4 separate regions of the Homo sapiens genome follow, and all the other regions are linked to region 4. Evidence: fine-mapped expression QTL. A gene starts in region 4. Each other region holds a variant in brackets. All regions are shown on one strand. Distances are from middle to middle.

Region 1 (8,195 bases), 57 kb after region 4:
ATCAGATTCACATTTGCAAAAGTAGGAGTAATGTAAGGGTTAAACTAAACAATATATGCAAAATGTTGGCACATACTAGATAATAAATGTTAGTTCTCTCTCCTCTTCTGCCCTTTGCCTACTTCACAGCCTATCCTGGCTGCACAAAGCCAACAAGAATGGCTTAGACTTATATCTTTTTCCTGCTAAGACGGCACTGTTGGAAGGAGTCCTTTGGGTCCTTTAAATGTGTTCCAGGAGAGGCACCCAGCATGCTAAAAAGGTAATAAAAATGACTGTGCCACCGGCAACCTGTTATCTAGGATTTCCTGATCTACCACTCACTTGATTCTACCTTGTACCTGCCTGTCATTCCTCCTCACTTTCTCTGCCTCAATCCCTGCTCCAATCTCACAGTACTAAACCTGTTCTCATCCACTGCTGATCACTGCTGGCCTTGTCAAGGCCACCTTCTAGAGACTGTCTAGACTGCATGTCTTACTCCCACAGCTCTTACTTATTAATTCATTTAGTAAGAATAATGGTAAGTAAATGAAACTATCTCTATTCACAGATGATATGATCTCTTATCTGGAAAATCCACAAAACACGCTTTCAGAACCAATGAACAAGTACAGTAAAGTTGCAGGATATGAGGTCAATATATAAAAAATCGATTGTATTTCTATATACTAGCGATGAATAATCTGAAGATGAAATCAAGGAAACAATTTACAATAGCATCTAGAAGAAAAAATACTTGAGATAAACAACATAGGTGCAAGGCTTCATAATCACACTGTATCCCATAAATATATACAGTTATTATGTGTCAATTAAAAACAGTAATAAAAGCCAGAAAAGGGTATAGCGACTGAAAGGTTTTTCCAGTGTACTTCTAATCAGCAACATTTGGCACTTGCAAAGAAAATGCAAGTCTTATACACTAAAAATTGTAAGATATCATGAAAGAAATTAAAGAAGGCCTAAATAAGTGGAAAGACATGCCATGTTCATGAATCAGAAGACTTAAGTATTAAGACGGCAATATTTCCCAAATTGATGAACAGATTCAACACTATCCTCTCAAAAATGTCATCTGGCTTCTATGTAGAAATTGACAAACTGACCCTAAAGTTAATATAAAAATGCAAGGGATCCAGAATAGCCGAAACAATCTTACAACAAAACTGGGGGACTCAAGTTTCTCTATTTCAGATCTTAATGCAAAGCTATAGTAATTAAGACCGCATGGCACTAGAAAAGGCTAGACATGTAGCTTAATGGAATAGAACTACATTTTTATTAAATTATGAATAGAAATAAATCTTTACTTTTATGGACAATTGATTTAGACAAGCCTAGGCAATCATATGGGAGATGAACAGTCTTTTCAATAAGTGGTGCTGGGACAACTGGATATTCACCTATAAAAGAATGAAGTTGGACTCCTATTACAAACCACATACAAAAATTAACTCAATATGGGTCATAGTCTTACATGCAAGAGTTAAAACTATGGAACTCTTAGGAGAAAACCTGGGAATAAATCTTTATACCTTGAATTAGGCAATGGTTTCTTAGACACTGAAATCACAGGCAAAAAAAGAAAAAAAATGTAAATCGGACTTCTTCAAAATAAAAATCTTTTGTGGTTTAAAGCACATAATCAAGAAAGTGAAAAGACAGCCACAAAATGGGAGAAGATACTTGCAAGTCACAGATCTGATAAGGGACTGGAGTCCAGAATAAATTAACTCTTACAAATCAACAAAAAAAGGACAACCCAATTTAAAAATAAGCAAATGAGTTAAATAGACATTTCTCCAAAGAGGATATACAAATGACCATGGAAAGATGCTCAACACTAATCATCAAGGAAATACAAATCAAAACCACAATGACATACCACTTCATATGCACTGAAATAAAAAAGACAGACAATAACAGTGTTGGTGAAGATGTGGAGAAATTGGAACTCTCATGCATCATTGATGGGATCAGAAAAAAGATGCAGCCCATGTGTCAGTTCTTCAATGTTAATGTAAAGATACAGTTACCATAATAGCCTAGCAATTCCACTCCCAGGTGTCTCTCCAAGAGAAATGAAATATAAGTCCACACAAAGACTTGTATGCAAATGTTCATGTCAGCATTATTCATAGTAGCCAAAAAAAAATGGAAACAACCCAAGTATCCATCAACGAATGAGTGGACAAACAAAATGTGATATATCCATAAAATGGATTATTATCCAGCAATAAAAATGAATGATGTATTACTGATACATGCTACAACACAGGTGAACTTTTAAATCATTATGCTAAGTATAAGAAGCCAGACACAAAAAGCCACACGTTTTATGGTTCCATTTATAGGAAATGCTCAGAATAGACAATTCTGTAGAGACAAAAAGTAGATACAAGGTTGCCAGGAAAGAGAAAGGCATGACTCCTAATGAGTACAGAGTTTTGTGGGAGAGAAGGGTGGTGAAAATGTTCTAAAATGTTAAAGTGGTGATGGTTGCACAATTCTATGAATATACCAAAAACCACTGAATTATAAACTTTAGAGGGGTGACATCTATGACGTGAATTATATCTCAATAAAACTTTTCTTTTTTTTTCAAGTGAGGCCCAGCCTTCTCATATTTGTGATGTTAATGTCCACACAACCTCATCTGTACTCACAAAATTGTGAAGGAAGAGAACCTGGGTCCACACACACTTTAATGAAGCACGGTTCCTGAGTGTGGCTGCATCTGGTCCAGCTAGAAAGTTGTGCCTGGCATTTGACCTGCTAAAAAGCCAAGTTCCACATGGTCTAGAGTTCAATGCAGAAATATCCCTGGTACATATAAAGAAACCACTCCTGCTAGAGGGGTGGCGCCCGGTGGAGCTGCCTGTGCCCCACCCGCCCTCCCATGCCTCACACCCCTCTCAGTTGTCAGTTGCCCCTGGAACAGGTACTTCTGGAAATTCATATAGCCAAGGAAAGTCAAAAATGAAGAAGAATCCAACAAAAACACAGAAATACATCAGTTGACTTGGGTCAATGGCATTACTAACTACCCCCGGAGAAGCCTGGACACATCTTCAGTGTCTCTATTTTCCTTTCTGCCCTCCCCCAGTGCCCACTCCATCCCAAGTCCCTTTACAAAGCTCTGTGACAGTGGCTCTCCTAAGTATCTAGAATCTACCTGCTCTCCTAAGGCTCACTGCCTCCCCGAGTTCAGGCTTTATCAGCCTCCTCCCACAAACACGTAGCCTCCTCCCTGCTTTCCCTACCTCCAGCCCAGCCTAGCTACAATCCTCTGGGCAGAAGCCCCATTGGGTGTGTTTACATTCCAAATTTGTGCAGAAAATCCACATAGCTTCATTGGGTTACCCAGTCCAGAGCAAAAACGCCAGGCCTTTCTCACTCTGTCATCCAAGCTCAAAATCCAAGAGAGGAGAGTTTCAAGGAGGAGGAGCTTGGGAAGTTATCCACTGGGGTCAAGCTCCATGGAAAGGTCATGTAATAAAAAAACTGAAAAGAATCACTTGGGATGTGGTATCAGGGGGGTTACTGCAGACCTCTGGAGAAGCCATTTCAGGGGTGAGGTCAGAAGCCAACGTGCATTGGATGAAAGAATAAATATAGGTGGATTCTCAGTTTTGTAAGATGTAAAAATCAAGAGAAGCAAAATGAAAAAAAGCACTGATGTTGAAGACAGTTTCCCAGTTGCCTTGTTACATTTTCAGTGTGGGACTGAAGGGGTGGTAGGCATTACTTCAACAGAATCACAACACATTTTGCCCTTCTCACGGCCTGGCGCCTGGAAAAGCTTTGGGAATTATTAGCTGCTGCTATTGATGTTGAGGGCACCCACATGCCTTTAGAACCAGAATCTAAAATGTTCAGCCTCTCAATGTCTAAAATGAACTGCTGCAATGTTGCAGATTTAAAAATTAGAGGAAAGTTATTTTATTAAATACATTTTAGAATATAGGTTTTATAGAAAGTATGTTATCATAGCTACTCTAGAAGCTGAACTTGGGAGAGTCCCATGGTTAGAGGGACTGAGCATTCTGCCAACAACCAGCCCCACCTTGCCAGCCAGGCCAGTGAGCCACCCCAGAAGCAAGGCCACCTGCCTCAGTCAAGCCTGCAGGTCACTTGCAGCCCTGATGGACAGTCTGTGGGCAACCTCCTGAGAAACCCAAACGGGAACCATTCTGCTAAGCTGCTCCCAAATCTCTGACACACACAGACTGTGAAATAACAAATATTCATTGTCCGTTTAAGGCACTAAGTTTTGGAGTAATTTATTTTGAGAAACAGATAACTAACACAGCCCTGACAGCAATTGGTTATTGGCTATGTGATGCCGAGGGAGTGGATAACTTCCTAGCATGGTGGCTTCTGCTCTGCAAGGG[C/A]AATTCTTCAGGAAGCAGGTGGCTGCGGTGAGCAATACTCAAAGCTGGGAGATGAGTGCATCCGCCTGGTAAAGGGGCCCTGGGCAAGGCACCAATAGCATCCACTGGGGGTGTTGATTATAATCTAGTACCTAAATATAGTTTTGGTTTTGACAGGTCAGTTTGTACACAAACACAATTGTGGAAATATTTTGCATTTCTTTTGAAGGTCTCACCTCCTTAGTGTGTGTATCCAGGAGGTACACAACTAGAACTGGATGCACGAGGCAGCAGCAGTGGGAAGCAGCAAGGTGATCTAGAGACACTTTATTTATTACTCACTAAGTCCCAAAAAGTGCTTGCAAATATAGAAAGTGCAGGTAGAGATGATCAATAATAACTAACTATAGTGTCTTCCCTTCATTGCCATTGAGGTCTTGGTTTCCAATAAGACACTTCATAACTCATTCCTAAGCATGCTGTTGGAAATGGGAGGGAGGGAGAGGTGGCACACCAACGAGGTCAGGGAGGGAAGAGAGACTCTACGTCAGATGACGATGTCTCAGTTGTCACTTCAGGTTCTGGCTGCTCTCTCCACTGTACAAGGAAAGCCACCAAATAGAGGGCAAACTGCTCCCCCTACTCTCCCCAGAACACCCCTTTTTCCTATCCCTAGGTGTAAGTGCAGGAGACCCTGAGCATCTAATGGAGTCAGATGCTAAGTTAAACACCCAGAAGTCCCGGTTTCTATGGGGCCAGAGGAAAAGGCAGAGTGCTATTTCCAGACTTCAGTGGCAACCGAAAAATGAAAAAGACTCGTGTGGGTGTGGGGCAAAGGCTGCCCCAGAATGCCCAAACTTTAGCTTCAATAAACCTATCATAGCCATAATGAGGCAGTGCTGGGGCAGAAAAGAGAACCATATAGGGTCTTCTGCTCTGGCAGAATCATACCTGGTTGTGCAACCAAAGTGTCTTCTCACACCTGCCTCCTATGACACCATTTGGGTTTCTCCAACAGTCTTCCACGTGTGTGTGTGTGTGTGTGTGTGTGTGTGTTTAGAAAGAAGCATCTGGTCACCAGAAACTCAAAGGCCAATAACTCTTAACAAAAATACATTCACACTGGACAAGTGAACACTCAATCTAACACACAGCACCTGTGGCCCTGGGATGCTAGGCATGAGGTGGTTTTCTGCAGTGCTGCTTCTCATTCACCATCAGCATCAGAATCAGCATGAGCTTAATGACTGCTTGTTGCCTGCTTTGCAGTGATGATGACAATGATGGTAATATTAATGATGATGATGATGATGATGTTAATGAGCCCATGGACCAGATTTAGTGCTGCTGCCTATTTTGAAATTAAGAAATACATGATGACAGAAACTGAATTCAGGTAGCACTGGGCTAAAGGCAGATGACTGATGACTGCTTGGTGGCTAGCTTATATGCAATTCTTATGATGACCCTAAGGTAATTGTTGTTGATGATGATGATAATGATAATTGATGATCATGATCATGATGAGTCAGATCTGGGAAAACATCACCTGGCCTTCAGCAGCTAATGCATAGTAGTAATGAATAATTTTCTCTGGGCTTGAATAGGAATTCATGGTATGGACGTGGAAAAGAAGGAGGCTCTAGATCAAAAGAGAAAAGATAAGCATGGTCCGTTTTCAAGATATTGTGAAAAGTACAGGTTGAGCAATCCAAAAATCTGAAATGCTCAAAATTCTGCAACTTTTTGAGTATCAATATGATGCTCAAAGGTCATGCTCAAAGGAAATGCTCATTGGAGCATTTTAGATTTTAGATTTTCAGTTTGGGAATGCTCAACCAGCAAATATAATGCAAATATTCCAAAATCCTAAATCTAAAACACTTCTGGCTCCAAGCATTTCAATTAAGAAACATTCATTCTGTACTGATGTGGAGGCTGAAAACCTTGAATTTTATTTACCAGGTAGGGGAACATCATCATTAGTAGTGTTTCTTAACCTCATTAGTACTGACATTTTGGAATAGATAATTGCTGTGGGAGTCTGTTCTGTGTGCTGTGGGGTGTTTAACAGCATCCCTGCCCTCCAACCACTTGACGCCAGTAGCACACCTCCAGTAGTTACTGTGTAAAATATCTGTGGACATTACCAAATGCTCCTGGGGGAGGTCAAAAGCACCCTCGTTGAGAAGCATTGAGCTAAGAGAAACAGCAGACAACACGAAGCAGTCAACAGAGAACGGCCCTAAGCAGGAGAAGAAATGTCAGGCTGAAGGCAGTTCGTGCAGGGAGAGAGACTGTCCTCCCTCTTCCAGAGAAAAGAGCTGTCACGACACTGGACGAGGGCCCAGAGGCAGGACTTCAGAGCAACAACCTCAGAGAGCCATGATTCCAGAGCAGTCTCAGTGCCTGCTGTCACCACCTCGGACACGGCAGGTCCCACTCACCTCGGCTAGAGCTGCACCTGACTCACCCAGTCAGGGAGATGCCACTGTCTTCCTGAGGCCCTCTCATTTGGAGAGCACCTTCTTCAGAGCAACCCAAGGGAAGCCGGAGTTCCTCTTCAGCAGGGCTTTGAGATGCTTTCTAGCATGCCAGGTCCCTCCCTTCACAAAGGAAACACCCAGAGAGCAGGGAGGCAAGGGGCAAGCCCTCCCTCGCAGCGGCGCGGTCGACCCAAGCAGGAAGTGGAATCCTGCAGGGAAGCTGCCCAGAGCCCCTCTGCCTGCCACAGGTCCCTGTAAAAATGGTAGAATAAGTGCTAGGAAATGCAAATTGTAATCAAGGGCCATGCGACACTTAAAAAACTACACCTTGGTTTCCAAAGAAACAGAATGCTATTATGAGAGGCTCTGCCTCATTAGCCTCGGTTAATGTCAGCGTGTGTCTGAGGACAATGCCCCATGGTTCTATGATGGAGAGCAACTCAGCTGTGATGCCGCCTTCTCTTCTTCAATCGGATTGAGAATGAAGGCTTCACCTGTGGCTCTGAAGCAGACAGGTAGGAGTCTCACTGAGACACCTAGACGCAGAACAAATGACTCACCAGGATGAAGCTCCACCACTGCACAGCAGAGGAACGTGCACTGTACCCAGTGATGACTTGGGGCTCGGGCTCTGGGAGCCAGTGTGGCTCCTTACAGGCTGTGTGTTCTGGAGGGACTGAAATCTTCTCCTAGCAAATGGTGGACCAGGCTGGGGTCCCTGGAGCAAAGAGCAGCATGCAGGGCTGGGCTGTACCTGGGCATGTCAGTACCCCCTGCAAAGGTTAACTTAGCCCGCTAAGGGGACTCCCTGAGGCATCTAATTCAAAGGGTGAAATAATCTATTGAGTGCAGCCACACAGAATGAGCAGTTATGGGGGAGAGAAGGGATTCACTGAAACAGGGCAGGCTTTGTAGGGCTCCCATAGCTCCACCCTTGGGCCCAGGGCAACTCCTAGGGCCCCAAGCCAATTTTGAGCCCCCAGCAAGACAGGGAGCCCCTAGAGCTTCAGTATTCTCATATGAAAAACTAGGATAATGAGGCCTAACCACAGGTGACTGTGAGAACAAGGAAGAACATATGAGAAAGTGCTTCATGGGCCCTAAAGTGGGGAGTAAATGTTGGTTGTTATTGGCCTAATTGCATATGCTTTACAAATGGTACTTTCATTGTAATAAAGCATCTGCATTTCTACAGGAGAAGTTCTAGAGTTATTTTAACTCCTGATAAGAAAATAATATGTCCATGAGAGACCCTGACCCTGAGGCATTCAAACAGTTTGCAAACAGGCCTGGGCTCCCTGCCAGCACAGGCAGGCACTCCCCGGGATCCCAG
Region 2 (8,195 bases), 24 kb before region 4:
CATCGCCAGCATCCTCAGTGGTGTTTTCCTTTTAGATGTGTGAGTTGGTTTGGACAAGGGATTGGCTGGGGTAACCCATCTCTGCATCAAGGTTCAGACTGACTCTCTCCTGTATTGTGCTAGCACATTTGCACCCACACATAATGTAAAAATGACACCTGGTCCGCATGCTAGAGGACCTTGAAATATATCCCTCTGTCTTGGGAGGAACCCCTAGCAGACTTTTCCCTGGTACTTCCAGGCCATGTAACAGGCTTGGCCGAATCCAGGTACCGTGAGCCGTTTCCTCCCCACCCCAGCCCCGCCCAGCCTGCTTTCTCTCTTCTTGGAAGTTTGTACCACTGCCCATCTCAGGCATCTGGAATTCCCAAGTGGGGCTGTGGACTGAGAGTCCCTCTCAGTCCTCGTACATCTTTCAAGTCAAGAGCACAGACCCTTGTCCTGGGAGTGATACTCTTGGGGGACAGACCATCTGGGCCCCTGGTAGATGGTCCCTGACTCCAGCCTGACACGCCTTCGAAATTCTGCTGCCACTTGGTTACACAAAGCACCACGACCCACCCGACTCTAACTGGCCACAAATGCCTTTGTCACAGGGGAGCACACTTTCCCCCTGGAAATGCAGCGGTGGAAGGACACAGGTGGTCTTTGCTAAGGAATGCCTTAACAGCTCCCCGTCTTCTCTACCTAGCAACTTGATCTGTGATGTTTTTGAAAGCCTGACCTGTGTATCTGCTCTCTCTGGCTTCCTAGGCTACCCATCTCTCCCGAGGCCACACTCATGGCACCCCTAACCCTGGAGAGCAGGGCATTAGAAAGAATCCTTGGATGACGGAGGATGTGGCCGACTGGCAGAGGCGGGGAGAGATGCTGAGCTTGAGTGAAATGGAAGGGCAAGCAGGAGCCAAGAGATGCAGCTAACTGGGCTCCAAACTGTAAAGAGAAGCAAGGATAAAATAAAGAGAGACAGAGAGATGGGAACAGCGAACCCCAAGCTGTGCCTTGGGTAGGTGATAACTCCAGATTTGGACTTGTTCCATTTAAAATTTTGGATGGAAATGCAGGGTCTAGTGGCCCACAGGGGGCAGAGTCAGAGCCTGGAGGTGAACAGAGAGAGGTGAGGACTCCTGGCAGAGATCTGGGGGTTACCCGTGAGGAGGTGATAGTGACTCTGGGAATGGATGTTGTACAAAAATAGACCCTGGTGCTGGGCAAAGCGCTTGACATACATTATCTCAATGAATTCTCCCAGCCTGAGGCTAGAGGTACTAAATAAACATGGGCGCAGGACCAAAACTGGAGCCATTGGGCCAAAATGTCAACAGCAATTTTCTCTGGGTGGTGAAATTTACAGATGATTTTGATTTTCTTCTTTGTGCTTATCTGCATTCTCTGATTTTCCAAAATGGAGAGTTATTACTTATGTAAAGATACAAAACCTAAGGAGAGTGGTTAGTTTAATGCTTGGTATGTGTGATCTTTAATGTCCATCCTAGCCTGGGGCCGCGTATTATCTCTGTTGCCCAAATGAGGAAACTAAGGCTCAGAGAAGTTAAGTCACTTCACTGAGATCCACAGTGAGTAAGAGAATGAGAAGGGCAGTGGTCCACACCTCTTTGACCACTGTCTACACCACAGTACACTGATGATTAAATCGGAGGAAATTAAATTGGAGGGTTCTCGCCTAAGACTTGCAGCCCGGCTGGGAGGCAGAACATCTCCATAAGAAAAGGAAAGTGAGGCCTTGGGGGAGTTCAGAGAGCCACCCACAGTAGAGCTGACTCATCCAGGGAGGGCTGCCTGGAAGAAGGGGCATACTTGGGACCCCTATGCACAAGGAGAGGTGCGAGGGTCCTCCTCTGAGGGGGAGTGGTGTGGCAAAGGTGAAGGGTGGTGGGTTTAGGGTAGGGGAAAAACCAATTGCCTGTAGTAGGTTGGCTGACGGTGGCTGTGTGGTTGGGAAAGCCCAGGCTGAACACCAGCTCGCTGTTTCCTCACTGTAAGCTGGAACTGAGAGTCCAGCTCAAGTTTCCATCACTCAGATGCATTTCCCTTCCTTGCAGGGCCCCATTCCTTGGAGGAATTCCCCCACCCACCACGTGTCCCCAGATCTGGCTGCCCTCCCAGGACTGGTTCTTGGCTACAATGATGCCAGGAGAAAGGAACCAGCCCAAGGAAAGAGCCGTGGCAAGTGGGTCCCACTGCCCAGGCTTCCTGGAGCCACCTGGCCCCCTTCTCTCCCACTAACCTTTGAGGTTGTGAGCTCTTCCAATCAATGACCTCTTAAGTTAGCCAGAGTTGATTTTTTGTTCCTTGTAGTCAAAGAATCCTTCCTGAAGCAAGTACCTGCCTCAAAGGGGCACGGTGAGGACTGAATGAATTCCAAATGAGGGCAGAGCCGTCAGCATGGCATCAGCAAAAAGCACATGCTTACTAGGGGTAGCAATTGCCACTAGGAAGGGTGATGTGGGAAGATGAGGGGGAGTGCAGGGTAGGCAATGGTCACTGAATCCGTCTTTTGGAAACTGTCTTTTAACATGACCCTCAGTAACAAATACATTTTATGCCAGGTCCTAGTCACTGGGTAACTGCATGTCCTTGTTGGCTTAGAGAAGTCCTGGTTTATGCTGTTGCTCTGGCAGGATGATTATTAGAGCCCCCTTGTACTCTCAAAAGTGTCCCAGTTAGGATGATAAATTACACGGTCAACTCACCCAAACACACACATGTCCATATGTAAGTATCACACAATACTTAACTTACTAGGCACTCTAATTTTCTATTTTATTTTTTAAAAAGCAGGTCACACACAGCCTACTTAATTCATTTCCTGATCTTTTAATGGGGCATGACCCTCAGTTCTTTCTGGTAGCTCCATGAAATGTCAGCTCACATCTCTTCAAGTTTCTCTTCATAGAATGCAATACTGTGAAGCTATCTGATGCATTTCACGAAGGATGTTGGGACCCCCTAGGCAGGTTCTGAGGTTGAATACAAACCATCATTATCACAGGCAAACTTCTGCCTCTGGGGACTCTAATCCTGTTTGCCGCTGCTCTAATGGTTATGGACTCACTGTATATTACCTTGCCATCATGAGCACAAAAATTTAATTTGGCTTCAAACGGTTTTAGATTGCCAGGGCAAAAAATCAATGCTGCTTATTAGGGCCTTAGTTTGTTCACTAAAATAAATTACCTTTGGGTCCTGGGCTGGCTTTCAGAAAGGAAAAGTTTGCTGTTTTTAAGAGGAACAGACCCCACGGACAGTAGCATCTCTAAAGGAAAGTTCTGCTGGGCAGCTTGACGATGAGTGAGAACAGGAGAGGCAGAGGTAATTACTGCTGAAAACGCTGCCCTTGTTTTAAGCATCTCTATGGCACTCAAACCGTTAGAGCCTTCCCTTAACACTGTGGGGGCCATGGGGAAAATGTGGCCCCGCTGAGCCAAGAGCCTTTGGGTTTTCTTGGAGCTGAACAGAGTCCCAGGTAGATCCCATGGGGATGTTGTGATGGGGATGATTGTGTGTACTTGTACATTTTAGGACACTGCCCACCAGATTGCTGTTAGGAGATGGGGACATTTAACAGTGAGGTTACCTCAAACACAAAAGCCTCCTAAGGTTTGCCCCAAATCAGACGTCTCCCACGACAGAGTTGAGCTTGTGGCTACCAATTGCATATGAGAACAGCAATTTTCAAGACGTTCCTTTGATGTCTTAGATCAACAGCATGACCAGCGCCACTGGCCAGGATCTCTCCAAGGATCCCCGCACCAGAAGGCAGCTGGCAAAGAAACCCAACACTGGGTCCGAATGAGAGTTCATACTTGGCACTCTTGACTCAGTTTTCTCTTGTGTTACGGCTTTGTTTTTATGAAACCATCTTGGGAAAATGGATGCTTGTGTTTTCTGGCTTTGATATAGAAAGTGGTGAGGTGGGCTTGGAAGACTGGGAAGAGTTGTTGATAGACAGAGGCTGACCTAAGCTTCTCTTGGTAGGTGTAACATTTCTGTGGGCCAGGGATCTTGAAAACAATTGCAGGCTATGCACGCCCCTGATATTTCTTCTTCAGTTGCTTTTTCTGTTTAAACAAATGTCAATACAGCCCAGGAGCAGATTAACTACATAACCTTGAGAGTCACAGAGAAGCACTCCTACCTCAGGCATAAGAATACTTTAATAGTTGATTGATAACTGCAGCCAATTAATCCTATGTTAGTCAATTGAGAACTAGGAAGTATAGTTAAAAGCAGAAATAGGAACTGCTAAATCAAACATATTTTAACCAAATGCAAACCCTGCCTTCAACAGGAAGCTTTTTTTTCCTCAAAAAAAAAAAAAAAAAA[AGCAAAAAAAAAAAAAGC/A]AGCAGCAGCAGCAGCGCAGAGAAAGACCATGATTTCACTGGCTGAATTCAATGGTATAACTGGCAGTCAGGGACTCCTCTGCATCAACTCTTGTCAGACCAAAGCCACAGCTTAGCACATTGAACTCAACAGCAGGAAGGAAGCTCTTGCAAATATGCACAGCCCTGGGTAAATGCCCTGCATCTGGAAAAATCTGTGTCTCTGGAGCTAGCCCCATCACTTCAGCAACCACGCTTAGGGGGAAGTTGTTTTGTCTCCCCTGTGAATAGCAGGCAAATAACAGGTGCATTACAGGATGCCTGTGAGTTAATTTCTACAAGGACTACAAACAGCAGATAAAGATACTTTACCTTTAAGGTACCGACGATGCCACCCACTAGCAAATATAAAGGAATGAGGGGCTGTATAGGGCAGTCCTCCAAAAATTTCATTCCTACATAGGGCAAACAGAAGAGGATTGAGAGAAATACATTCGAGAGCACAAAGCCCAGTTTTGAAAATGAGTGGAACACCTTCAAAAGCCAAAATGTTAATCATGCAAACCATATGCTTGTGGGATCTGCTCAGCCTCACCAGTCACCTGATCCTCAGGAAGCTCAGTGGATTGACACCGCAGAAATGGCTCTCACAGCGGAGTGGCGATAAATACTCCCGCAGACAGGGCAGGGACCAGGTGTCGCTGCACCTTTTTTCTGGGTATTAACTGGCTATGGGTTGCACTCTGCCTTTCTGAATAGCCAGTGTATGAGAACTCAAGTTTTCAAGGATTCAGGATTCAAAGGATCCCTTTAAATATACGGTTTTCTTGATATGCTTAAAATAAGGTTCAATTTATGAGTCACATTTCCAAAATGTGACTCTGCGTGAATGAGGTTCTCATCTACTCTGCTTCCAGGGGCCAGGTGGCAGGGAGGAGCCGCTCTTCCTCCCTGTGCAGCAAGCCCTCTGCCGTGTTAGTCACAGTCACCATATGATAACCATTGACCATGCCACTCGCTGGACCCCATGCTGGGAAACACGCGTGTACTCACATATCCTTAGCTACCAGATACAGAGTACTACCAAGCCAGCCTACCCAGTCTACCCTTTCTTAATGGTAGTTTTTCTCCCCAAAGCAATGCTCTGTCTACTTTTCTCAGGTCTTTGTTCCCTAGACCTATTAACCAATGATATGATGTGTCTATTTAACATATAAAGAAGAAATGCCCATTTCCCTCAGGGACCAGTCTGGCTCAAACAACCAAGCTCCAGATGAATTCTAACACACACCTTTGCTATGGGAGACACTGACTGCCCAGCATGTGCCCTTGTTGGGTAGCAAGGCAGTGTGACCAGTTCTGACCAGTGGGCTGTGGGACACCTTGGGGCCAAAGCATTTATTTTTTTTGAGACAGAGTCTTGCTCTGTTGCCCAGGCTGGAGTGCAGTAGCATGATTCAGTCACAACTCACTGCAGCCTCAACCTCCCAGGCTCAAGCGATTCTCCCACCTCAGCCTCCTGAGTATCTGGGATCACAGGGATGTGCCACTATGCACAGCTAATTCTTTTTTTCTTGTAGAGAAGAAGGACTCACTATGTTGCCCAGCTTGTTCTCAAACTCCTGGGCTCAAGTGATCCTCCTGCCTGGGCCTCCCAAAGCGTGGGATTACAGGCCTGAGCCACTGTGCCCAGCCCAGGCCAAAGCATTTAAAAACTGATACATGATTCGTTGTTTGCTTCCTCTGCTTTGACCACCTGGAAACCATGGGTGGAGATGGATTGTTCTCAAGATTGAAGCAGACTGGACTATTATGTCATCACATTGCCTGAGAAGTCCCCATGCCCCCTGAGCCATGATGGAATTTGCGTAAGCAAGAAATAAACTCTTACAGTGTTAAGCCACTGGGATTCCAGGGTTAATTTGTGGCTGTAGCACAGTTAAGTTACCCTGACTAACACATCTGTCAACAGAGTCCAAGAAAGGGAATTCTTACTGTAGAACCAAAGCCTCCTGTTTAAATGACATTTAGACTTTTAGCTTTGATTTGGAATTTTATTCCCTATAAATGCCTTGATACTTAAGCAGAGGGAGTAAACTGTTTTTCTATGACTACACCATATTCCATTGAAATGAACAAAATTTTCTAGGTATACAGAGAGCCATAAATTCAGGGCCCAAAACAGAGTTTAGTCAAATATACACGTTGATCCAATCATCAACCTATGGAGGCTTGTCTTTTAGTTATCTCTGATGTTTAGGTGAATTTGTTATTAAATGGAAATACTTTCCAAGTCTCAACACAGCCTTTTCACACAAAGACCTTTAAGTACTTGGTGCCAAATTTGTTGGACATGGACTGCCTTTCAATTCAAAAGCCAGCTGTGAAATGAACATTGAGTAATGGCTTAGATATCTGCTCATTCCCAATGAATAAAAACAGCTGCTGTTCACAGGAGAGTCAATCAGTGCACAGATGGCTTAAAACGATCCTAATAAATTTAATAAAAGCCATCTTTCCCCCTGTGTTCTCATGTACTTCTTAGGACCTACCTTAACTCTAGATTTTCTTTCTTGTCTGATCTGCAGTATCACGATTATTCTTTTTGGTTTTAGATCTCTCCCTAGTTCAGTTGATAACAACTACCAAATGTAGTGATTTTTAAAATATTTGTTATTGTGATAAAATATCTCAACAAAAATTGCCATTTTAACCATATTTAAGTGTACAATTCATCGGCATAATTACATGCATCATCTTGTGCAACCATCACCACTATCTATTTCCAAAATGTTTTCATCACCCCAAACACAAACTCTATAACCAATATTGCTCTAGAAGCAATAACACCTCCAAAACCCTCTTTCCGCAGTGGATGTGGTGATTTTAATATAATATCCATGGGAATTGGCTTGTGGGGTCTTGTCTCTTTTATGCAGCCTTATTGGTGGATGAATTGTTGCAGTTAAGTTCATTTGAAAGATAACTGGCTGGGCGCGGTGGCTCATGCCTGTCATCCCAGCGCTTTGGGAGGCCGAGGCGGGCAGATCACTTGAGGTCAGGAGTTCAAGACCAGCCTGGCCAACGTGGTGAAACCCTGTCTCTACTAAAAATATATAAATTAGCCAGGCATGGTGGTGGGCGCCTGTAATCCCAGCTACTAAGGAGGCTGAGGCACAAGAATCACTTGAGCCGGGTAGGCAGAGGGTGCGGTGAGCCGAGATCGCTCCACTGCACTCCGGCCTGGGCGACAGAGTGAGACCCTGTCTCAAAAGAAAGCAAAAAGAAAGGTAACTAACCACAGGGTCCAAAGGCTAGGGTTCTCTTACCTTACAGATTTTGCATAGAATGCCCTCTGGAGAGTACCCCCGACTTCATAAGCAGGGCATGCCTAACATCTTGTGAACTCTTCTTGGAAGAACAGAGCCATATAATAAGTGTTAATTTTTGAATTGCACTGTAATAATCACAGCACCAGGGCCTGCTGAAGTGATTGAATTGTTCACTCTTACACTAAATGGCCCCAGACTACTTGGCTGTTTCAGTTCTCTGCAAACCTTAAAATCTTATCTTCTTTTTTATTTCCTGTCAGGCTGTTAGCTTTCATGTCTTACAGATCTAAGGATACTGTTTTTGTTTCCATTTTTAGTATTGTGGCTTTAGCAGGGGTGGCAGGGTGAAACTTACATAACAAAAGAAACCATTCTAAAGTGAATAATTCAGTGGCATTTAGTGGATTCACAGTGTTGTGCAACTACCACCTCCATCTAGTTCGAAAACATTTTCATCACCTCAAAAGGAAGGCTCCTACCCATTAAGCAATTAGGGTACTGGGTGTTTCGTTGTTGCTGT
Region 3 (8,195 bases), 32 kb before region 4:
GCAACGATCCATCTTCAGAACTTTTTCATCTTATTAAACTGAAACTCTGTATCCATTAAACAAGAACTCCTCATTGCCCCCTTCCCCAGCCCCTGGTAACCACCATTCTACTTTCTATCCCTATGAATTTGACTACTCTAGGGACCTCATCTAAGTAGAATCACACTTTGCCTTTTTGTGGATGGCTCATTTCAGTTAGCAACATGTCCTCCAGGTTCATCCATGTTGTAGCAAGTTTCAGAATTTCCTTCTTTTTTAGGGCTGCATAGTGTTCCATTGTGTGTATAAACCACATTTTGTTTATCCATTCATCCATAGATGGACACTTGGATTGCTTCAATTTCTTGGCTATTGTGAATAATATTAATATGAACATTGGTGTGCAAATACCTCTTTAAGACTCTGATTTCAGTTCTTTTGTGTGTATACCCAGAAGTGGAATTGCTGGGTGATATGGCAATTTTATTTTTAATTTTGGGGGGACCTTCCCTACTGTTTTCCATAGCTGCTGTGCCACGTTATGTTCCCACCAGTATTGCACAAGGGCTCCGGCTCACCGCATTCTTACCAACTTGTTATCTTCAGAGTTCGTTCCTTTTTTTATTTAATGGCATCCATCCTGATGCGTATGAGATTGCACCTCATTGTGGTACATTATTAATTTTTGTTATGTAACAACATACATTTTATACCTTCTGCAATATTCAGGTGTTGCTTCCGTCTTGTATCTGTTGCCGAATATATCTCAGTTGTAGGTATTCACACAATCACACGATATTGGAAGGATAGTTTGGTCCTTAAGTAGGTGGCTTTGATTTTTTTTTTTTTGAGACGGAGTCTTGCTCTGTCGCCCAGGCTGGAGTGCAGTGGCGTGATCTCGGTTCACTGCAAGCTACGCCTCCCGGGTTCACGCCATTCTCCTGCCTCAGCCTCCCGAGTAGCTGGGACTACCGGTGCCCACCACCACGCCTGACCAATTTTTTATACTTTTAAGTTAGCCAGGATCGTCTCCATCTCCTGACCTCGTAATCCGCCTGCCTCGGCCTCCCAAAGTGCTGGGATTTTTTAATGGTTTCCTTGGTGATGGTGGGATTTTGTTGACTCTCACACTCCTGGGGAACATAGAGAATAGCATCCACCCTAATCAACCTCTCTCCTCTCAGGAGCTCGATGAGTCGTCGCGTCCAGGTGAGTCTCCCTCAGGTGCATCATGTGCCTAATCCAAAGGCCCTGCAACGAACTTCCCTAGGAGCCCAGTTCAGCCAGGGGCCTACTTAGGTACACGACAGGAGGAATGGCAAACAGTTTCTCAAACTGACCTCTCAGCTGTTCATTTGTCAAAATACAGTTTCACATTACTGCTTTTCCCATTTTGATTCACAGAAATGAGAGACCAGGCAAGTTACAGAGGATGAGCCTCTTAAAATAAGTCCTATGAATACATATTAGTCGTGTTTGAGGCAGAGCTCTGCGCTGGTAATGGAAAGAAATCCATGATCCAGGAAATAGAAAAATGCAGCTTGTCAAATAATATGAATAGTCTGACATAATTTTTTTTTCTTTTCTTTTTTTTTTTGAGACGGAGTCTCGCTCTGTTGCCCAGGCTGGAGTGCAGTGGTGCCATCTCGGCTCACTGCAACCTCCGCCTCCCGGGTTCAGGCGATTCTCCTGCCTCAGCCTCCCAAGTAGCTGGGACTACAGGCACACGCCACCACACCCAGCTAATTTTTGTATTTTTAGTAGAGACAGGGTTTCACCATGTTAGCCAGGATGGTCTCAATCTCCCGACCTCGTGATCCGCCCACCTTGGCCTACCTAAATGCTGGGATTACAGGCATGAGCCACCACGCCCAGCCTAGTCCGACATAATGTAGGTAAAAAGTACCTATATTTATGCTTAACGATACATAGACATATTCCAAAAGGATACTACAGAATTAACACTGGGTACCTTTTTGGGGACCGGGAGTTGGGGGGGTGCTTCAAATCTTTTACTTTTTACCTCATACTCGTTTACACGATTTGAATCTCTAGCCATAGCATGTATCACTTTTATAATAAAAATAAAGCTTTAAAATTGTCATTTTAGGAAAATAAAAAGGGTTGTAAAAGGGGATATACTAGTAATTTATGTCATGCCTCCAGCTGTGGAGAAATAACCCTGGCTTAGGCCGGCTTCCCTGGAAGCAGAGTCTGAGATGAAGCTCTGGGATAAGGGATGTGTTGAGGGTGTGGCCTTGGGAGAAACGAACTAGGGTAAGGGAGGAAGCACTGGGGAAAGGGAAGCGCTGGGAAAGGATGTGGCTTTCCACGAAGCCCTGCTTTCACCTGATCCCGCGGGCAGCTCTGGTGCATAAATGCCTCAAGTTTGACCTGCCCTGAAACAAGGGAGTTGGGCTTTTCCTCCCTCTTCCCCGACTCAGCCCTTAGCTATGGCTGTCGGTGGGGTGAACTGGGAGCGGGGAGAACTCTCAGGCTCCAGCTGGCTCCAGTCAACCAAGGCGGCCCCCACAAAAGGGTGCAGGTGTGCGCCATTAGCGCCAGCACCTGCTGCTGGGGGCGGGAGGGGACGCTGGGCTGCCAGAAGGGATCCCAGGGGAATCTGGGCTTCAACCCCTTTCCCCAGTGACTTGGGAATCGAACCCAAACTGGCTTCCTTATAAACAAATGTATAAACTGTAAATTGATGTAGGAAATGTTTTTCTTTTCTGTTTTCTTTTTGATGGCTATGGGAAGGTACAGGCTACAGGACATTGTATTAAATAGCAGCTTAAATACTCAAAAAAAGATATAAAGAGTAAAAAACATCAGTTTGCAAGAGTCCGATCAGACAGCAAGACTTTTGCAGTGGTGGGAAAATCACTGGAAGGCTGGAGAAGAGGATGTGCCAGCCTGCTCTCAGGAAGCAGGCGGCGAGGGTTCTGATCTGGCTACTGTTAGTGGTCAAGAAGACTTTTTTATTTTTTTCACTTCCTTGGCAATGTATATCTCACCACTGATTATATCTCCCTTCCGGCATTGAGAAGTTGAGGAAATTCAAAGACAGATTTGAACCCAGGACTAGATAACCCAGAGAATAAGGCCAAAGAAAGGCAGGGGTGGCTCTAGGAGGCTGTATTCTAAGGCCTACAATTCTCTGGGCTGCCTTGACATCTCTGAGCCTCACAGAGGCCCAAGGGCTTAACTGTGAGTTCCTCTGTGAGTTCCCCTGCCCTCACCAGGCATGCCCCTGAC[C/T]CAGCAGGCAAGGTCTCCCACCTGACCAGTACCCTGTCAGTCACCACCACTCACCCAGCCACCAACCTAATGGGTTTCCCCTCACTGCCCGTCTGTGAAATTACTCAAGCAAGACAGGAAACTCCTCCCATGGGAACACAGGGTTACCTGGTCCTCTTGCTACTACAAGGCATGACCCCCACGGCCCCTGCCGGTCCACTCTGTTCCCAAGTGCAAGCCCCATGTGGCCCTGCATAACATGCTGTGTCCTCCTCCCCCAGGCAGTGAGTCTAGTGACTAATAAGCTGCTGTCCATCACATCTGTCCAGTGGGGGAAGGGTTGCATTTGGGCTTCTCCCACTATTTAGGACAGGGACCCCTCCCTCACCAATAGGGTAAGTAGGAAGTAATCAGAACAGAGGGACGTTTTGAGTCACAAGCCTTTTTGGGAACATGCTGTATGTGCAAACTCTTAATACCAGCAGCAAGTCCCAGTTGCTTTTCCTTTGCCTATGAAGCAGAGCTTACTTCTCTGAACAATGCAGTAAGTTTTAAAAGCTGACCAGTATAACAAAGGAAGTGTCTTAGAGAAAACAACAGGGCTGGGTGAGGTGGCTAATGCCTGTAATCTGCGCACTTTGGGAGGCTGAGGCAAGAGGACTGCTTGAGGCTAGGAGTTTGAGACCAGCCTGGGCAACATAGTGAGACCCCCATCTCTTAAAAAAAAAACCCCACAAAAAACAAAAAACCAACCAACCAAAAAAACCTGACTGGGCACGGTGGCATGCCTATAGTCCCAGCTACTCAAGAAGCTGAGGTAAGAAAATTACCCCAGTCCAGGAGTTCAAGGCTGCAGTGGGCTTTGATTGTACCACTGGACTCCAGCCTGAGTGACAGAGCAAGACCCCATCTCTTAAAAAAGAGAGAGAGAAAACAACAGATGTATTTGGAAACACTCTTCTCTTATTTCTCTTCTGCTTGCAATGGCAAAATGCTGTCTCCTGGGATATCCAAGATAACGTAGCTGCTGTGATGCTAGGCTAACCTGAAAAGTGAACTACTGAAATTCTAGCTCTAGAAAAGACAGACTAGTTGTCTTATTAGTTCTATACTTATAAAAGATAAATTATCACTAGGATTACTAAGAAGAATTTTCTGTTAGATCATTTTTCTCAATTCTCCACTACAGACTCATCTACTCACCTGAGGATTATGAGGATTATGAGTTTTATGGAGCAAAATTTGCCTAGAACAGGTTGTCAGCTTCTGTGGACACAGTCTTCTACCCTCAGAAATCCCATTGGAAGAAAGAACAAATGAAGCATCCCAAGGACTGGAGGATTCTCTTCCCCCAGGGTATTCAAGGAAGACACTGGGGAACAAATTGAACAAAGTTTATTTCATCAACAATGAAAAATGCCCAGAAGGAAATGAAGCACAAGATTCAGTTACACAAAGATGAAAGCTATTGACCACTTGGCCACTTCTCATACTAAAAGAGAAGGAAATAACACGAAGTACTGGAAGTGACATTATATTGTCCTCATGGTGACAACCAGGATGGGCCTGACATAAGCCAGTCCAGGCTGTATGTGTGGCCCGAGTGCACACATGCGGTTTCTCTGGCCACCGAATCAGAACCAGCTGGGCCCCACAAGTCAGTCTCTGGGGGCTGTGATTCTGCATTGCAAACAAGTCCTTGGGTAGCTCTCAGGGTTCACCAAGATTTGAGAACCACTAGTGTGGCTGACTCCAGTGAAACAGTCCCACTTTTACTGCTTTCAACTGTCATTTATATAGATTCAGGCAAAGAATGGTTTTTAGAATGATGCCCGATGTAGCAAATAAAATGATCTCAACATATAGTTTATCTTTGCTGCAGTCTTTTCTCAGATGGGAAGAACAGATTATCCCTCTCTGCCACATAATTTGTTCCCTTGAGGTTTCATAGCATCCAGAAAGTTCAGGTGTTCCCATGTCCACTTCCCATTGCCTTGCCAGGTTCCCATGGAGGAAGGCTGCCCAGCTCTTGGGCCAGTCTTAGATGGGCATTTTCATTCTCCAGGTATACACAGCACATTTCATATCAGTGTGGACTGCCTACTTCAGGCCATGCCAAGGATTATAACTTCTTCTATAACCAGGAACTTCTTACACTCACCTCCAGCTCAGTGAAATTATACTAAGAGGTGATCACTTAAAGGGCACGCAGCTCAGCCCTTCCTAGACAGTCTGGGTGTCATCCCTGGATTAAGCCAGACTTCAAAGAACCACAGTTATAGACCATTTGCCTTACTTAGCCCCAGAGCCTCTTTCTTGAAATGTGCCTTATCATAACCATCTCACCATCTCCTGAGGGAGGCCTTAATCAGTTATCATTCAAAGCCTGCTGCGCTTGAAGATGTCACCCACTGAACCATTCAGTGTCCCCTCTATGAATGGATGCACATGAACATTTTCTTTAGGATCTAACCTGTTTCCCCAGAAGGGGGTAATTTTGTTTTTTAGAGATGGGGTCTCATTCTGTCACCCAGAGTAGAGTGCAGTGGTGCAATCATAGCTCACTGTAACCTCAAACCAGGGAAGATGTATGACCTATACAAAGAGATCATCACCTCTTCCTTACTGCTTTGGTGACAAGAAAACTCAAAGCTAAAAATATAGTCCAGATTTTAGCAATTATTTAGGACCTATGACCAGTATTCTCCATTGCAACTGGGGGTGGGCTGGTGGGGTGCATATGAGAATGAGCACACTTCATCCACCACTCCCTCTGGGAAAGATTTCTGCAACACTCTGGTGATACTCATGCCTACCAGAAACTGGGAATGTCCAACGTTTGAGACCTAGCTACTGATGTATCCAAAGCACTAACCAGTACCTGCCATCTGCTAACAGAAATCTTCATGCCCATGGTTGTTCACAGCTCTTTCCGCCTTTGCCAAGGCCCTCGCAACAGAAGCCTCAGAGGCTTTCATGTGGGAGTCATGCAGGTGTCCCTGGGCCCAGGTCTTTGCTGCTCACAGATGTCCAAGCATTGGCTAAGTGACTGGGAATGGCTGACGAGTCATGGACTGGGGAAAGGAGGGTGGGAGAGGAGCCCATGGAACTCCTGTCCACCCCAGTATCATAGCCCACAGACTCTCCCCAGTCCCCAACACAGAGAGGGCAACGTGGGACACAGTGAGGATGGAATTGGGCATCATAGGTGAGGTAGGATCTGCAAACTGCACACCCGCTGGTCTTCTGCCATGGCTCAAGTGAAAATGAAAACAGAAACTGCCCTTAGGGACAGGGGCAAAAAAAGGGCTGTTCTTCCTTTGTCCAGCAGATGGCACACCAAGCACTTTCTTCTCACCTGGGAGGAAAGGGGGACTAACGGTGACTGCCCGGGGAGTGCTTCTAAACTGAAATGGGAAGACCCCATGGGACTCACGGGGCCTTTCTCTTAAAGCTACGGAGAAGAATGAGCCTCTTGGTTTGAGCTGACACTTCTGATGAAGGGAGGTGCCTCCATTCATGGCCACTCAGGGATTGGTTTGATGAGAAAGCACGAAAACATAACAAAGTTAAAAAATAAACACAGCTCAGCAGTGTGTAAATATACAGAAATGCTATGCACGTGGCTGAGAGAAGCACGGTTAAGCAGGTGCCACGCACCCCTGGGCACTGCCCTAGAAACACTCATGACAGTATCTTCATACAAAATTCTAAAACATGGGACTTTTTGCTCATAAAGAGGCTCCCCAGCGAGCACTGACAACAGACCTGGACTTCATCTCTCAACAGCGGCAGCCAGAGGGAAGGTTAGTGGTCACTGTTCGGTGTCATCCTGGACTTCCAGACATCTCAATTTACAAAAGGCTTCCAAAGCCTAACTGGTCATTAGGTTGAGGAGCTATTATTCGATATTTAAGCTCAGAAACCAAAAACAGCTACACTGACGGCACCCCAACTCATGCAACCTGTCCAGAAACATACAAAACTGGTTTATGCCACCCAGCCAGCCGCAGATCATAGAGAGGTACTTGAATAGCCAGAGGCAGAGACAGACTCAAGGCCAAGCAAAGAACCTGCAGCAGCGGCACACGGTGCACACGGCGCTGCACTCCGCAATGCCTGTAGCAGGCCAGCCCGCCCCCTATGTGGAAGCTACTGCTTTGACGTTGTTAGATTTTATAGCTGACCTTGGGATGTTCCACCCATCACGTCAAACCTATCTGATATAGGGCTGGAAGAGACTGCTCCTTCACTTTCCCAAAAGGCAGCTAGAGTCACTAAAAGAATATCTTTTTCCTTTTAATAACAAAAGCCATCATAGCGAGTGAAGTTAAGATATATCTTGTGTGAAAGTCTGTGCACTTTCTATAACTTCAAGGTGACCATGGCTGAATGACAGCAGCAGTAGCAACAACCAACCTTGCTCTTGCACCAGTCATTGAAATTGCACTATGATTTGAAAAGGTCTCCCATTCTTTGCCTCCCACACTTCATACCCTCAAAAACAATTATCCCTTTGAAAACTCTTGTGAGAACAAAATTCCCACTCTGAAAAGAGCAGAAGTGATTTCCCCATGTCTAGGAAGGCAAGAGTTTCTTTAGTCTGCTATTATATTCAGTGCCTTTGGGTGGCTTTTTAAATGCCTTCAGGGAAGGTTTTATTACCTTTATGCCCTTCTCTGAACCTGTGTGTGTGTGTGTGTGTGTGTGCGTCTGTGTGTCTGTGTGCACGCGCGTGCATGCACACGCATATGCATACATGGTATGCTGGACAAGGCAGCTGTCAGTCTTCATCGGCAGCAAGTCTCCACCTGGAGCACAGGTAGACACAGCCGCTGCACAGCAGGAGCAAGACCAGCACAGTGTGACTGAGCGCCAGGACTCCGACTGCAAAGAGGTACAGGGTTTTGTCACAGTAGTCCTGAGGCTGCTGGAAAGGGGGAAGAAAATCAGGCAGGTACACAGAAAAGACCCAGTAGTTT
Region 4 (8,195 bases):
TAAAACCCTGCCTGGAAAAACAACCCTCCTGGATCCAGTGATAAGCCCAGTTATCTAAAGGGGCCATGGCCCATCACGGCTCCTAAAGGCCCGGAAGGTCGGTTCCTTTCCTCACCCTTCTTAGGGAAAACAGAGGGTGCACTTCACATAACAGGGAGAGTGTGTACTTCACATCTTCCAGCCACGAACCACAGCATTTTTCTCCTGGATCACAGAAGGGATAGAACAGAGGGAGGAGACACAAGAGCCATCTCTTTACACTTGCCTGGTGGAGTCGCCACTGATTTACAAACTTCCTTTGAAATGTGTTGAACGGTTTCTATCAGCGCCTACAAACTAAGACATTCCAGTCTTCAAATCCACAGCAGCTTTGCAGAAACTAACGAGATGGGTCTGTGTCACATTATAACAAGACATTTCTACCTTGGGCCATTCCCTGGGGTAAGAGGTCACGCTTTAATCTCCTGTGAATCCTGAAGAACAATGTTTCACCACAAAAAGTAATAGAGCTGCATATACATTTTTTAATGCAAATGTCCTAAATTGGCTGATCCCTTTAGCCACTAACTGCAAATAAGGTAGAAACATCAATTTGAAAAACAGTGATATCTTTATTGATAATATCAGACCACAAGAGGTGGCAGCCAATAGAACACACCAACACAAGTCGCAGGTATTAGATCCATTTTATAAATGAGGAGACTCTTATTCTTTCAAGCTTGTTATTTTCATAAACTGGCAAGATGGATGAGAACTAAAAAAAGAATGATGTGCTGTGAATTCTGTCACGCCTTAAAGAATGTTCCCTAAGAGACAGGTAGCAGTGGCAGTAGAACTCAGCTTTGGCATCCAGCCCGAAAGGGAAGACAGAATTCCCAGGTACAGTCTCAAATGCTGGCCGACAAACTTTGCATATTGTGTTCAACTTCCCTTACAAGGAATAAAATGTTAAACACACACACACACACATCATATGACCTCGTGCATGTAATAATGTCTGTAGATCTACGTAAACACATAGAAAAAGATCAGCAGCATAAACACTAAACCACTGTGAATAACTGTTCCCTATGAAGGCAGGTACAGGGATATGGGGCCACTGGGGCTGGGGTAGGGGTAGGGAGGAATGTGCCGCAGGCAGGCGTGGGTAGTATTTTCATTTCCACTTTATACCCAAATATTGCCTTGCCTTTTCCCCCATTAGCAGGTTTTACCATTATAATTTTAAACTTCTTTTTAAAACCTCTTAAAATTCAAGAAGTATTATTTGAAATGAAAAGTAGTTTGCTTTCCAAAAGTCCAGAGATTTTTAAAAAGTAGCATGTAGGAGATAGATAAGCAGAAAAGGAGTAAGTCCACCAGGGAGCAGACACAAAAAGAAGAGAGATGATGTGATGGTGGTAGGCAAGATTTTTCTCTTTTGGAATACTTTCTTTAAAAATTACAAAAGCGAATTCACAGAAAAATTAGATCAAGGAGAAAAGAAAATCATTAGTCATTATAAACAACTGCAGAACTTCCAGCCCAACTGTTAGTATTTTGGAGCTTTTAAGTATATGCATATATACATATGCATATGTGCATGTACACACATTTTACATGGTTGCAATAATCAGGCACATTAAGTGAACACATCACATTTTGACATAAGCATTCTTTCTGTTACCATTTGGTCTTCAGAACTCTCATTTTCACAGCTGAATTATATTTCACAGAGTACGCTATATCAAACTATATTTCTCTATATCTTCTTGTTGGATATTTACTTTTCACTCAAGTAATCCTAAGAGACATTTCTCTCCATGAAAAGTGCTTTGTTTCATGCACACGTAGATCTCTTGGAATAGTTATGTAATTAAAAAGCATAAGCAACTTTTTGGATTTGAGGTAAAATTGACTTATAAATGAGCTGTATCCATTTCCAGTGCCACCAGCAATATGAGAGTGGCAGTTTCACCACACCTAACCAGCACTGGGTGGCTGAAAGACTAATGCATTTTTATTACTCTCATAGGCAAAAGTGGAAATTAATTATTTTAATTTACATTTTTGATTGCCAGTGATATTTTGCCAATTCTTTCTAGGCTTATTTCCCAGTTGTATGTTCCCCCTTGTGATTTGGTTTTTATGACCCAAGATATGGATTTATTTCAATTCAGAGGAAGCCCACAAAGAAAGCTGCAATTTGAGAAAATAGCAGTGAATCTGCTTTTTGATTCACAGAATTCACTGTGTGAATTTGCAGATTCAAATACACTACAAAAGACCTATTCACTATTATGGTGGGGACTTGAACAACTCACAAAAAACTGCACGTTCCTTGGAGCCCTTTGAAGCGGCAGCTCTTCCAAAAGAGGGTCCCTCAACAGCAAGAGATGCCCAATAGAGCAAATACATACTAATGATGGATTCATGTCAATGCAATCCATTAAATGATTGACTAAAATCTGTAATGACACAGATTTTAGTCAATTTCTATACCTTCTATATCTTCTACTAAGAAAACGTACATTTTTTCTTATTTGATAGAAAGTTTTCTTATTTGTTAGAAATCTGAAACAGGAAGAGATTGGGGTAACAGGCCGGGCAGTGCCTTCTCTCCAGTGTGAACAAACAGTGACTTACAAGTCTATCCTTGGGCATGCTGTGATAGGACTGTGTGTCTCACACCTGCCTCTGCACCTAGAAGGGCAGTGATAATAGCCCCTGCTGCTTCCTCTCCTAGCAGCTGAGTGATAATAAAGGGCACGATGGGAATTAATCAATAATAATTGCCAAATGATATGCTCAATGCATTTTCAATTTTCAGTCCAATTGATATATCTCAGTGGTTCTCAACCAGAGGTGATCTGATCCCCAAGGCACATTTGGCAATATGTGGAGACATTTTTAATAGTCATGGCTGGAGCAGGGCTGTCGATAAAGAGACCAGAGATACTGAAAAACATCCTCCAAGGAGCAGGGCAGTCCCCAACAACACTTATCTGCTCCAAAATGTCAATAGGACTAGGTCTGAGAAACTTTCTATGTCTGTCTAACATTCCCAGTTTTAGAGTTCAAATTTGTAAAATTCTACTTTTGTTAACCTCTGAGTTGTGTCATGAATCAACAGTAAACATATATATATGTATATATATGTGTGTATGTGTAGACACACACACATATATATATATGATTGTGTTTTTACTGATTGGCTTGGTAAATTAAACTATTTATTCCTAAATCAGCTGTGAGGACCAACTCACTCTTGGTTTTGAATAACATTGAATATTAGACATTAACCATCCCCATACCTGTTCCTTCAAAGCAGATGTTAACTAGTATTGTTGAATATTTTCAACAAACATTTCGGGTGCTCAGGACACAGTCCTTTCTTATCTGTAGCTCTCTGTGTAACCTGTGCTGTTTTCTCTCCTAACCATGCCCGAATGCATGAATTCAGTGGAGGTTATCGCATACCTACTGTGTCTCAGAGTCATTCCACAACCTCCCTAGGATGCCTTCATTGTTTGGCTCCTAGGAAATGAAAAATGCACTTCCTTTGAGCTCTACCACCCCTTTAAAATGACCAAGTCAAAGCCACTTGCTCACAGCCCCAATAGGTAAGACATGGAGGTGATGCCTGTGGTCCCCACTCGCTGTCCTGCAGCCGGTAGGTTGTTTCTAAGAGTCCCACACAACTTGCCTTCGCCCTGCAGTTAATTATTCCTTTACGATTGTTCTCTTCTCCAGAAAACCCATCTCCCTTAGACTCAGTGAAGATTGTTTTCGTTCCCTCCACACAATTAAGAAAAGCACTTCCACAATGTAGTCATTTTCTTTCCAGGAAGCATAATCAGCACATTGGCATCTTCCTAAGAATGATTTCAAGAAACCCTCTGCTAGGACTGTCTCTCCAACTTCACAGGCTGCCCAGGGTTGCCGGACTCACCTGAGCTAAGCAGAGTGGGATCCAGAATCGGGCAGCACTCAGCACCTCTGTGGTCCCGAAGTCCAGGGCTGCCTCTGTGGGGCTCCTCTTGACTTGGGGCTCCCACTCCCTGTCGCACGCTTTCTTTCTCCCTTTCTCTCCTGCAGCACAACAGCAACTCGTGGCTTTTCCTCTAAGGGGCGGGTTCTCTCCATTTCCCACTCCCACGTGTGGGGAGAGCAGCCCCACCGCCGGCTCATACCCCTGCAGTGTTCCCCAGGCCCGCAGGGGGGCAGCAGAGCGACCCTGGGAGCTGTGGAAACATGGCCGACCCCTTGGAGTTAGGAATTCCCGCGGGAAACATTTCATTTCAGTCCCTTAGGCACTAAACCTAGGGACTTAGTTCTGGTGCGAGCCCCTTCTCACCCCTTGCCCTCCCTGCATGTTGGTGGCACACGAGAAAGGGTGGACCGAACAGCGGCTGCTTAGGAAAGAGTGTGAAGGTACTCAAAGTGGGCTGAGGTAATGAGAGGTGCCCTATGGACTTCAGGACTGCCACGTAGAAAAGGGATTAAATTGATTCCGAGTCATTGCAGACGGCCAGATCTGAGATAGAATGAAGTTACAAGAAGGCTGAATTGTGCCCCATGTCATAAACTTTGTAACAGTGGCCTTCTTAGACCTGAAGCAGGCTGCTTTGTGAGGCTGTTGTGTGTCTGTATTGTAAGCAAGCACCTAGCAGTAGAAGTTCTCAGCTGCTGATTTATAAGAAGTGCCAGAGATTCTTTATTGAAATGCAGATTCCTGTACCACCTCCCAAAGATTCTCAATCTGTAGGTCTGGGCCTGGGCCCAGGAATCTGCAGTTTAGACTCTGCTAAGTCTCCTGTAGGTGCTCCATGGACCACACTTAGAGAAACTGGCGTCACATGACTTAAAGGCATTCTCCAACCCTGACATTCCAGGTTTTTTGTTGTCATTTCGGTGGAAAAGGCCAGTCTACTGGGGAGGGACTGGGGGAGGGACTGGTGTGAGGCAAGAGAAGAGCCTATTATGTAAAATGCAAGGAGCTGCTCCCTCTGAAGCTACCCCTGCATTGCACACCCCTGGGAGGAGGGCACCTCTCCGGGCTCACTCTAGGGCTGGCCCTGCCACTCTCCCAGTCCTGAATCCAAGGTGACCACTTCACACCACAGGACAGGGTGAAGCAGAGGAGCAAGGGGAGGAGAGCCTGCTAGAGGAAAGGACATACAGTCACAGTCATGAGCCACATAACAATGTTTCAGTCAATGATGGACCACACAGATGGTGGTTCCTTAAGATTATAATGGAACTAAAAAATTCCTATCACCTAGTGATGTCATAGCAGTCATAATGTTGTAGTGCAACACATTACTGATGTGTTTGTGGTGATGTTGGTGTAAACAAACCTACTGCACTGCCAATCACATAAAAGTAAAGTACATACAATTATGTACAGCACATGATACTTTACAGTAATAAAAAACAACGAAGTCACTGCTTTATGTATTTATACTATACTTTTTATCATTATTTTAGAGTGTACTCCTTTACTTATATATATTAAAAAAAGGTTAACTGTAAAAATGCCTCAGGCAGGTCTTTCAGGAGGTATCCAGAAGAAGGCATTGTTATCATAGGAGATGACAGCTCCTGCCTGTTATTGCCCCTGAAGAACTTCCAGTGGGACAAGATGTGGAGATGGAAGATAGTGATATTGATGATCCTGACCCTGTGTAGGCCTAGGCTAATGTAATGTATGTATAATGTATGGGCTAATGTATGAGTCAAAATTAAAAAAAATTATAAAGTAAAAAAGTTACAGTAAGCTAAGGTTACTTTATTATTAAAGAAAAATATTTTTAATAAATGTAGTGTAGCCTAAGTGTACAGTGTTTATGAAGGCTATAGTAGTGTGTAGTAATGTCTTAGGCTTTCACATTCACTAATCACTCACTCACTGACTCATCCAGAGCAACTTCCAGTCCTGCAAGCTCCATTCATGGTAAATGCCCTATACAGGTGCACCATTTTTTAATCCTTCATATCCTATTTTTACTGTACACAATGTTTAGATACACAAATACTATGTGTAGTATTTTCTACGTTTAGATACACAAATACTTACCACAGTGTTACAACTGCCTACATTATTCAATACAGTAACATGCCATGGTCTCTGGCCTTTTGGGAACAGTACTGGTCCCTAGCCTTTTAGGAACCGGGCCCCACAGCAGGAGATGAGTGGCAGGTGAGCAATCATTACCACCTGAGCTCCACTTCCTGTCAGATCAGCAACGGCATTTGATTCTCACAGGGGCACAAATCCTTCGTGAACTGTGCATGCCAGAAATCTAGGTTGCACACTCCTTATGAGAATCTAATGCCTGATGATCTGAGGTTGAACGGTTTCATGCCAAAACCTTCCCCATCCCCACCCTCATGAAACTGGTCTCCGGTGCCAAAAAGATTGGGGACCACTGGGTGTGTAGTAGGCTATACTATGTGAGTTTGTGTGAATACATTCTATGACCTTCACACAATGGCAAAATTGCCGAATGTCACATTTCTCAGAACATATACCCATGGTTCAGTGATACATGACGGTACTTGAATCTTCTCTTATCTCACACTGAGTGAGTGGAAGCAGAGTGACTGTGAGCAGTGAGGTCAGAGTCTTAAGGCTTCCCTGCCAAAGTGGTGGGGGTCTGGGAGCACACGGTGACCATAAGCCTGGCCTGGACGTGGCCAAAAAGGGGCAGCAGTCTTTTTTGAGCACATTTTAGCCCTGACATCAAAACAAACAAAATTTCAGGTGATGAGGCAGTCTTCCTGGGAGTTCAGGAAGGGAGAAAACAATGGCAGGTCACTCAGGAGCTTTTCCACATGTCCCCAAACATGCAGCAAAACATCAAAGAATATTTTTCTGCCAACAGACAACTGTACTTATGAGTACAGAAATAGGAGATTTTTGTGGGGGAGAAAGTAGGAGTCTTTGGAAAGTGATTATGAGACTCCAAAGGTAATGATAAATGATAGTAATAATAGCTCTATCAGTTAAGAAAAACGGGGAATCTGATATGGGGAATTAGTTACAAGAGCCACGGAAGAGCTGAAAAGTCATGCACGATGTCGTGGTGGAGTAACCCAGAGATTAGCAACTGACAGTGGAAGCAGTTGCTAACCCTAGAGATGTGAGTGGAAGACCACCACTGGAAATGCTGCCCAAAGCAAAGTAGGTGCGATTAATACCCCCACTTCACAGATGAGTAGCATAAGGTACAGAGATTAAAGGCATATGGCTACTAAGTGTGTAATGAACTTCAATTCAGGCCACGTGATAGAGTCCACATATGGCACCACTCCACTATTGCCATATGAATAAAGGGCACATTAGGGGAGATGATAGTAGAATTGAGTGAAAGTTGAATTCAGAGTATAAATTTTTAAATGCTTGTCTTTAGTTGAGGTGGTTCTCCTCATAAAAGTGAGTTCATTCATTCATTGAATGAATACTGCTGACTCCAAGCCAGATACTGTGAATAAAAAGATTACTTAATAAAATCCATGTATCCTATAAGGAATTTTGATGCAAAAGAGTAGTGAGTGAATGAGCACGTGCCTGAGTTTAATTACAAAGGCAACTGTGAGTTAATGAGGGTAGGCCTGACTTCTTGATGGAAGCTGTAGAAATGAAGGGAGATGCTAAAGTTGCCCAAAGACCAGGTTGTGCACCTCCAAAAGGAGCAATCAGAAAGCCAAGGGACACTGATGAGTGTTCACTCTCACTCTTCCCCAAGATTGCACAAAAGTTTGTCTTTGTCTTCGTCTTTGCTTGTGTGTTATTCCCCAACAAATTAGTTCTATGTAAACATCCTAATTCTTTTCATGCTTTCTTTGGAAGTTTTCCATTCTGATGTCACTCTTCTATTTGAGTCACCGTTTCTATATTTACCATCTATTCATCCTGACGGCTTCCTAATTTGGGAGAAAACCTTCAGGGTCCCTCACTTCGACTTCTACCTGAGTCAAAAAGCATTTCAATATAAGTTTTCATTTTCCTTTTGACTTTTCCCAGCATTTTAATTTTCCTGAGGACAATTTAAGAAAAAGAGAAACAGAATGCATGGTCCCACAACTAGTTCACAGTCAGGAAGAAGAAGAGTTAAATGACAGGCACCCCTGACCCATGCTGCAAACTTGAGGCCATTATGCTAAGAAATAAGCCAGCCACAGAAAGGCGAATGCTGTATGACTCCACTCAC

Which allele goes with the higher level. Positions count from the first base shown, and alleles are read on the strand shown. Sizes are in standard deviations (SD) of each study's normalised expression. Not every link is listed here.
For the expression in Th1 cells of the gene that starts at base 4,093 in region 4, allele AGCAAAAAAAAAAAAAGC in region 2 goes with a higher level than allele A (moderate effect, 0.72 SD a copy in Schmiedel 2018).

What was found. PIP is the estimated chance that this variant, and not a neighbour inherited with it, causes the effect.
Region 1: its variant is fine-mapped to the expression of TMEM272 in whole blood (INTERVAL, PIP above 0.99).
Region 2: its variant is fine-mapped to the expression of TMEM272 in Th1 cells (Schmiedel 2018, PIP 0.94).
Region 3: its variant is fine-mapped to the expression of TMEM272 in whole blood (TOPMed, PIP above 0.99). The same link has a PIP of 0.9 or more in Th17 cells, blood mononuclear cells, naive CD4 T cells and naive CD8 T cells.

The regions. Positions count from the first base shown.
Region 1 is chr13:51,898,541-51,906,735 of GRCh38, forward strand. It overlaps a transcript of TMEM272 not described here. Among named protein-coding and RNA genes, the nearest start is that of CCDC70, 41 kb to the left of the region's middle. The variant C/A (reference allele first, on the strand shown) is at 4,398.
Region 2 is chr13:51,817,340-51,825,534 of GRCh38, forward strand. TMEM272 (transmembrane protein 272) reads right to left here. Exons shown (of 5, transcript NM_001351003.2): 4 at 4,716-4,798. Among named protein-coding and RNA genes, the nearest start is that of DHRS12, 17 kb to the left of the region's middle. The variant AGCAAAAAAAAAAAAAGC/A (reference allele first, on the strand shown) is at 4,348.
Region 3 is chr13:51,808,755-51,816,949 of GRCh38, forward strand. It overlaps TMEM272 (transmembrane protein 272), which reads right to left. Exons shown (of 5, transcript NM_001351003.2): 5 at 4,593-8,195. The coding sequence ends at 7,997. LOC107984561 (a long non-coding RNA gene) reads left to right here. Exons shown (of 2, transcript XR_007063805.1): 2 at 4,403-5,078. Among named protein-coding and RNA genes, the nearest start is that of DHRS12, 8.7 kb to the left of the region's middle. The variant C/T (reference allele first, on the strand shown) is at 3,235.
Region 4 is chr13:51,841,085-51,849,279 of GRCh38, forward strand. TMEM272 (transmembrane protein 272) reads right to left here and starts at 4,093. Exons shown (of 5, transcript NM_001351003.2): 1 at 3,932-4,093. RefSeq lists an enhancer at 8,094-8,195.